2 linked regions of the Homo sapiens genome follow. The protein of the gene in region 2 purifies or fractionates together with the protein of the main gene of each other region. This does not show direct contact. Each region holds a gene or a part of one and is shown on either strand. Other genes may lie near its edges.

Evidence for each region.
Region 1: the proteins of CACNA2D3 (region 2) and YME1L1 purify together in Homo sapiens (affinity purification with mass spectrometry, with the first as the bait; one large-scale study listed by BioGRID). This does not show direct contact.

What each region holds. Positions count from the first base shown.
Region 1 is NC_000010.11:27,109,577-27,113,274, forward strand, and holds the end of YME1L1 (ATP-dependent zinc metalloprotease YME1L1), read right to left. Parts: intron 2,545-3,698; coding exon 2,401-2,544; 3' UTR 535-2,400; downstream 1-534. UniProt on the Homo sapiens protein: ATP-dependent metalloprotease that catalyzes the degradation of folded and unfolded proteins with a suitable degron sequence in the mitochondrial intermembrane region.
Region 2 is NC_000003.12:54,121,087-54,125,555, reverse strand, and holds the start of CACNA2D3 (voltage-dependent calcium channel subunit alpha-2/delta-3 precursor), read right to left. Parts: upstream 3,005-4,469; 5' UTR 2,843-3,004; coding exon 2,721-2,842; intron 2,500-2,720; exon of another isoform or gene 2,114-2,499; intron 2,044-2,113; coding exon 1,962-2,043; intron 1-1,961. UniProt on the Homo sapiens protein: The alpha-2/delta subunit of voltage-dependent calcium channels regulates calcium current density and activation/inactivation kinetics of the calcium channel.

The sequences.
Region 1 (3,698 bases), on a different chromosome or scaffold from region 2:
GGGAGGCGGAGCTTGCAGTGAGGCGAGATGGCGCCACTGCACTCCAGCCTGGGAAACAGAGCCAGACTCGTCTTAAAAAAAAAAAAAAAAAAAAATCAAGATCTGATAAAGGACTTGCATTCAGAATATATCTTTTTTAACTTGTAAGAACAAGACAACCCAATTAAAAGAAGTAAAAGATCTGAATAGACACTTCTCCAAAGAAGATATACAAATGGCCAATAAGCACCGGAAGATGCTCAGCATCTTATGTCACTAGAGAAATGATCTAACTTGGATGAGATTAATTTGGATATGAGTGGTCCACTAGAATGGCCATAATTATAAAGGCAGACTATAAGCACTGCAAAAGATGTGGAGAAACTATAACCCTCCTACATTGCTAGTTAGAACATAAAATTATAGTCACTTTGAAAATAGTTCATAAGTTTCTTAAAAAATTAATCCAAACACTTGCATGACAATGTTTTGGGTGATGGAAATGTTCTAAAATCTAATTGTGGTGATGATTACACACACAACATCTTTCAACTCTACATTTAAAATGAATTTTATCATATGTAAATTATACCTCAACAAATATGTAAAAAAATTTAAGACAGATAAGACTTTATCAATATTTTATACGTGTATGTATGTACATACAGAGAGGGAGACAGAACAGGTTTGGGGCAATAAAAAACGGGCAGAATGATAACAACTGGTAAATCTGGATGCAGGGTATATGAGACATCCATGTATTATGCTGGCAACATTTCTGCCAGTTTGAAATTACATTAAGATTTAAGATTATCAACCAAAAGGTCAAGAATATAATGTAACAAGCTTCCTGTAACAATATCTATCTTTTTTCAATGAAGACCATATACAGCTTAAATTATTAGGAAATTGTAGATAATTTTAATGAAGTCAACGTCAAGAATATAATCTGGTTGTAATACCAATACAATGTGTTCTAAAATAATTTTTCTATTGAGTTAAATATTCATCTGTAGATCCTATAACAGCATGTTCATATTCACAAAATCTGAATGAAAAGTAAACACAACTTGGCATTTCTGACGCAGGGTAACACAAAGTTCACTTCGGAGGGGACTGAGATTTTTGTTTAATTTTGCTTTTGAAACCAAGCACAGTTATAGTCAAAATGAGGGACATTATTCAGAATGAGGTTATGTATTTATTTAACAAAATACTGCTTCTCTGAAGTACATTTCATTAGGGAGAGTGACAGTAATGCTAAAAAAAAGAACATGAAAATGCACACAGCATTTCTGAAAGGTTATAATAATTTATTTAATTTTTTTTTGAGACAGAGTCTCACTCTGTCACCCAGGCTGGAGTGCAGTGGCTCCTGTGATCTTGGCTCACTGCAACCTCCACCTCCTGGGTTCAAGCAATTCTCGTGCCTCAGCCTCTCAAGTAGCTGGGATTCCAGGCATGCACCCCACACCTGGCTATTTTTTTTTGTATTTAAATTTATTTTAATTTTTTTTTGAGGCAGAGTCTTGCTCTGTTGCCCAGGCTGGAGTGCAGTGGCATGATCTCAGCTCACTGCAACCTCCATCTCCCAGGCTCAAGCAATTCTCCTGCCTTGGCCCCCAGAGTAGCTGGGATTATAAGCACCTGCCACCATGCCCAGGTAATTTTTGCATGTTTAGTAGAGATGGGGTTTCACCATGTTGGCCAGGCTGGTCTCAAACTCTTGACCTCAGGTGATTTGCCCGCCTTGGCCTCTGAAAAGTGCTGGGATTACAGGCGTGAGCAACCGCGCCCAGCCCTATTTTTTTGTATTTTAGTAGAGACAGCGTTTCACCACGTTGGCCAGGCTGGTCTCGAACTCCTGGCCTCAAGCAATCCACCCGCCTCAGCCTCCAAAAGTGCTGGGATTACAGATGTGAGCCATGGCACCATGCCAAAAGGCTATATTCCTGGCTCTGTGTTTCCGAGACTGCTTTTAATCCCAACTTCTCTACATTTAGATTAAAAAATATTTTATTCATGGTCAATCTGGAACATAATTACTGCATCTTAAGTTTCCACTGATGTATATAGAAGGCTAAAGGCACAATTTTTATCAAATCTAGTAGAGTAACCAAACATAAAATCATTAATTACTTTCAACTTAATAACTAATTGACATTCCTCAAAAGAGCTGTTTTCAATCCTGATAGTTCTTTATTTTTTCAAAATATATTTGCCATGGGATGCTAATTTGCAATAGGTGTCATAATGAGAATAACCCAAACTGGATAAATGTGACAAATGATTGACAAAGCATTTCACACCCTTCAATTACACCACATCAAGAATGAGGGGAAAGCGTTGTAAAAGTAGACTACTGCAATGCTACTTGTATTCTTGCAATAAAACCAGCAAGCATCCATATCAAGAGAGTTATCATCTCACTTCCAACTTTTTCCCCTCAAGAACAATTTGAATCTCTTTGGCATCCAAAGTCTCATAGGTCAATAAAGCTTCTGCGAGATTCTTATGCTCCTTTGCATGAGTTTTCAAGATATGTTTTGCTCGTTCATATGAGTCCTGAAACAGAAAAGGAGATACGTAAGCAGCAGCAAATGCAGGGATGCGAAAACCAGTCAATGGGAAGAGAAAGAAAAACTTTATGTACCCTAAAAAATATGAAATCTGTTTATATTTATAAAATCATGTAGAATCTTGATTCTACAGTAGAGATAATTTGTGCATTATAACATAGTAAGGAAAAGAGAATAAACACCTGAGAAGGCAGAGACCACCTCTTCTATAACACTCTCTAAACCTTTCCATCATACAAACTTTCTGTATCCTTAACTACTCTAAAGCATTCCCTCTACTTCCTTGAAATAATCAAACCCATGGTCCCTCCTGTGGAGAATGCATTCCCTAAGCCCTCTCAAGTGCTATTTGTTCATGTTTACCCTAGTTACTTCACAGTAAACAGCTGAGCTCATTGTTCCCATTACCTCTTTCAGACCATTACTAACCTACCCTCTTATATAATGCACTCTTCCTATTCTGTTGAAGTCCAGGCCATTTGACTATGGAGCTATCCAACCGTCTTCATTGTGCCATCTGACAAACATAGTCCTTACTCACTAAAGACTTTGGCACTCAGCTCTGTCACTCTCTCTCTCTCTATTTTTTTTTCAGTCTCACTGTTGCTTAGGCTGGAGTGAAGTCAGGCAATCACAACTCACTACGGCCTCAACCTCCCTGGGCTCAGGTGATCCTCCCACCTCAGCCCAAGTAGCTGGGACTACAGGCATGAACCACCATGCCCAGCTAATTTTTCTATGTTTTGTAGAGATGAGGTTTTGCCATGTTGCCCAGGCTGGTCAGTCTTACCCTTAAAACCTGCCTGGCTGGGTGCGGTGGCTCACACCTGTAATCCCAGCACTTTGGGAGGCCAAGGCAGGTGGATCGTTTGAGCCCAGGAGTTCGACACCAGCCTGGGTAACATAGTGAAATGCTCTCTACAAAAAATAACAAAATTAGCTAGGCATGGCAGCATGCGCTTATAGTCCCAGCTACTCAGGAGGCTGAGGTGGGAGGATCACTTGAGCTTGGGAGACAGAGGTTGCAATGAGCCAAGATCACAGCACTGCACTCCAGCCTGGGTGACAGGGCAAGATGCTGTCTCAAAAAAAAAAAAAAAAAAAAAAAAAAAAAAAAAAAAAAAAAAAAGACCTGCCTTC
Region 2 (4,469 bases):
CTAGGGTGGACACCCACCCTGGAACGCAATGCCAAGCAACACCTCACCTTTCCCTCGCATCAGATTACAAAATGCCAGGCAGCAGCAAGAAATGATAACAAAGCCATAAACAGCTGGAAATAATTACACAATTGTCAAGCTGCAAACATGACAAAAGCAAAGCAAAGCTAGTGAATTCAATATCAGAAAGGATGCTGATGAGAAGGTAAGAGAAGCATTTCAGCCTTTTCCAATTTGCTGTTATAGAGTAGCAAATAATAAGGTTGACGGAGTTTTGTGCAGTGTGTGTGTGTGTGTGTGTGTGTGTGTGTGTAACTTCAAAGAGAAAGAAAAAAACATATTTAATGTGTTCCTAGAAAATGTGGGATAAAAGATATGAAAGCACAACCAAAAAATATTAACAGGCTCTGAAGGGATTCTTTTAGAGTTGCTACAACTACAACGTGCAGATGAGAAATACTTCTTTAAAGTTATACAAAATGTTATCTTCTTTAAAAGCATAAGAAAAATATAAAGGCAATGCTACAGTCCAGAATTCATCACATCAAACATCTGACAAGTGGGCAAAATGCCAAAGCAGGAGACAGATTGGTCCAGATTAAAAGAATACTAGGGAAAGAGGCAATTCCTATGCAATTCCTTTAAGTGCCGAGGTGGGCCACAGGTATGTAAATTCTCATCTTCCACGAGGGCATTTCGTAGCCTCAACTGTTTACCAACTGCCTATAATTCAAGAACACCTTCCCAAACAACAGAGTTGAGCAAGCAATCTTTCAATGAATAAGGTTTCAATGAATAAGGCTATTGGCGATTTTTAAACCATAATAACTTTTGTCATTCCATGGTGGGCCAACGCTTTATTACGATATTTGGATTTCATGTGGCAAACTGTTTCATATACTGTCCCCAAAAATGCTACTCTCTGAAGGGGAATGCCATAAATAAAATACGTACTTGGTTACCAGGCAGCATGCATAACACATATGGTACATTGGCCCAAAAATCATATTTTAAAATGTTTAAAAGTTAACTTAACAATTTAAGCTGTTTGTACCCATTTTCAGAGAATTATTCCCTAAAGGCCAATTTTATTTTCTATCATCAAGAGAATACTTTGATTAATCCTGTTGATCTGCTAACTTGAAATTCTTTGAACCCCTCTAATCTCTCCTCCCAGACCCATTTTTTTTTCTTTATTTCCTGAAGGGGAGAACGAAGGACCATTTATCTCACAATGTAATTTTAAGCTTATGCTTAAAATGCTGCCTATTTGAATTAAAATTGATGCAGCTTGTGATAAGAACCTAATAATCAATTCTCCATTCTCATTACTCTCCAGAATTACATGGATGCAGACCCATTTCTTAAGTTTGTGGACTACTCTCATAGGTTATTACCCGGCAGTGCAGCTGAGTGGAAAGATAACCACATTCATTCTCCTTATCTGCAATGATGTAATGCATCCTAGCCCTGGGTCTAGATGATTGGGGAATAATGGGATTGTACAACTGCAGGGATGACAAACAATAGTGCAGCGTCTTTCTCTGATACACTGAACCCCACGCCTCCAACGCAAGGTGAAAGGCATCACAAAATAGGCACTGAGTCTGCCCCTTGGATGAAGTTAGCATTTTTTGGCCCGAGGAGCATCTGCTCTGGCACTGAAACAGCAATACCGACACGGAGACGAGAGCCATGCAAAAACACTCAGTTTCCGAGCCCCAGCCAGGACAGTGCGAGTGAGTATCCTGCTTTTCTTTGTGGTTAGAATCAAGTGTCATCTAAAAATAACCGGTTGGTAGGAAGAAGTCACTGCATAGTACAATGCCAAGAAACCCGGGGATCAGAGAGTCCTCCGATAACTGATGCTGCTCGGGGCTCACGTTTGTTTGGAAAACTAAATCTGCCTCCATTTTCTGTGCCGGAAAAATCATCGCTTCCTGCCACCACAGAAACCTTACCTTTTGCAGAAGCTGGGAACCGGAGTACTTAGCAGCAATGGATTTTATCTCCCCACCAAAAGCCGAGGCCCAGAGCTTCACCCTACAGGGAGAAGGGGCACAGGAAGATATGTAACACCCGTGTCACAGTCAACACGCACGCACACGCACACGCACACATGGGACTATGGCTGAAGGAGCAGTGCGATGTAACATGTTTTAAAAGAAGAAAAGATAGAAAAAGCGGCTTGGTAGAAACTGCCAGCACCAAAACTGCAAAGCGCAGCGCGGGAGGGGGCCCGAGGGGGGTCGCGGAGTTAAGAATGCGCAAAGTCTCCCAGGCTCTCTAAAAAGACCACTGAGTTTCATTCGAACCACTGCCCGAGGACTCGACCCCCCAAACTGGGCATCACCTGGCAAATAGCAGTCAGAAGAAATCCACCCATCCCCCCCCCAAAAAAAGAAGTGGGGCGGCAGTAGAGCAAAGAGGGGGGAAATTCAGCGGCCCATGGAAGTTGGATTCGGTAACCAGGCTCCAAAGTTGGTGCCGTCACTTGAGGTGAGCCTCTCCAGATCTCACTCGGCAACCTGCGGGCAGGGGCCAGAGCATCCCACCCCGGCCTCGCCGCCCGACGCGGGTCCCGAAAGGCAGGTGCGAGCGGCGAGGCCGACGCCCGCGGCGGGTCCTGCCCAGCCGCACCTGCAGGCGCCCAAACTTGGGCACAGTGGGTCGCAGGCGGCAAGGTCCCCTCCCCGGGCGGCGCAGGAGCCGGCACTTACACGGAGAGCGGTATCTGCTGCTCCGAGCGCACCACGTCCCCCAGCGCGGCGTAGAGAAGCGCGGCAGCGAGAAGCGCCGAGGCCCCCCGGGACGCGCGGCGCGGCGAGCCCGGCCCGGCCATGCTGGGCTCCCTCCGACGCGCCCGCTGCGGCGGCGACGAGAGCGGCCGCGGGGAGCTGCGCGGAGCGGGCGGTGGGCGAGCGCGCGGGGCTGCCTGCTCCGCTCCGCGCCGCCCCGCCTGCCTCTCGCGCGCCCGGCTCACTTGGGGAGCAGAAAAAGGAGCGGGTGGGGGGGGCGGGGAGGGCGGAGAGGAGAGGGAGGGAGGAGAGGTGGGGAGGGAGGGAGGAGAGGTGGGGAGGGAGGCGGGCGGGGGAGGAGGCAGCGAGACGCGCCTCTAGCAGCAGCAGCCGCCCGGCCCCGCCTCGGCGGCCCCGGGGAGTCCGGCGGGCCGCGGCGGGAGGGCGGCGGGGCAGGAGGCGCCGCGCGGGCGGGGACTCGGAAACTCCAGTGTCCTTGGCCGCGGCGGAGCGCGCCCTGCCCCACCCGGGCTACTGCGGCCGCTGAGTTCTTTACAACTCCGCAGTCCGCCACCGCGGGCGCGACTCTGGGGCTGGCCCCGGGCCGGGCGACCCTAGCCAGGGTGGGGGTTGGGGGCGCGGGAGGGAAGCCGAGGGCAGGGCGCGGCGCTCCGCACTTTGCGGGCGGCTGCTAGGAGAGGGCGTAGCATGCCCGCTCCGCCCCTGGGCCGGGCGGGGTCGGGGGCCGCGGAACCTAAAGGGGGCGCGCCCTCCGCCCCCGCCGCGCGATTCTCCTGCGGGGAGGGAGCTGGGGAAGAAGCAGAAATCTCAGAAAGGAGCACAGGCTCGCGGCGGCAGGCGGGATCGCACGCGGGGCGGATCGGGCTGGGGATGGGACTGGGTGGGAGCTCGGGGCTCTGGCTAGGGCAGCGCTGCGTGACCGCCCGCAGCTGCTCCTCCGGCCGCGGCGCCCGACAGGGGAAAGCACGGAGGGCGGTGCTGCCACCACGGCTTGGGCGCACCAGCGCGGGGCTCCCGGCATCCGGCCGCAGCGCAGCGGCCCCCTGCGCGCCCGACCCAGGCCCCGGGGCTCCCCAGCGGCCGCTGCCTTCGGAGTCCGCCCGGCTGCGGTGACTGGTGGGGACCGGGATGTCAGGGTTGAGCGAGGAAGCCAACGCGGCGCCGAGTCGATCCTGACCGGGGGACACCCTGGATTTCGGGATAAAAGATTTCTCCGAGCCTGGGGGATTGCCTGCTCCCCACTCCGGCGCCCACCGCACTGGGCAGGAGGCAGTGAGCGCCGGAGGAGGCGCCTTCTCGCCGCCCTCAGGGGCGAGGAGAAAGGAAGCCGGAGAAGCCCCTGCGCGTTCTGGGAACCAGGCTTCTCCCCGCCTCTCTCGCCGCTGCCCCCACCCCGGGACCCAGCTTGCAGAACCCCTCTCCCCCGTGCGAGGTATGGGGTGTGATTGGGAACTTTGTGGAGCCCTCGCGCAGGCTGGCGGTAAAGACCGACCGGAGTGAGGCTGAGTCATCCTTGCCCGGCCAAGCGCAACTCCGGTGACCCCAGCAAGGAGTGCGCTCCTAACGTCGCCGGGGCTCCCGGCGCACCAGACACCTGGGTTCATATTTGCATGCCTTTCTGCAACCAGGGCTTTGCTTTCTGCCCCGTCACCCGCCCTTGGCCTCAGCATCCTCAGGTTGCAGGGAAGTAAGGGCGGGCTCCAGCTTCCG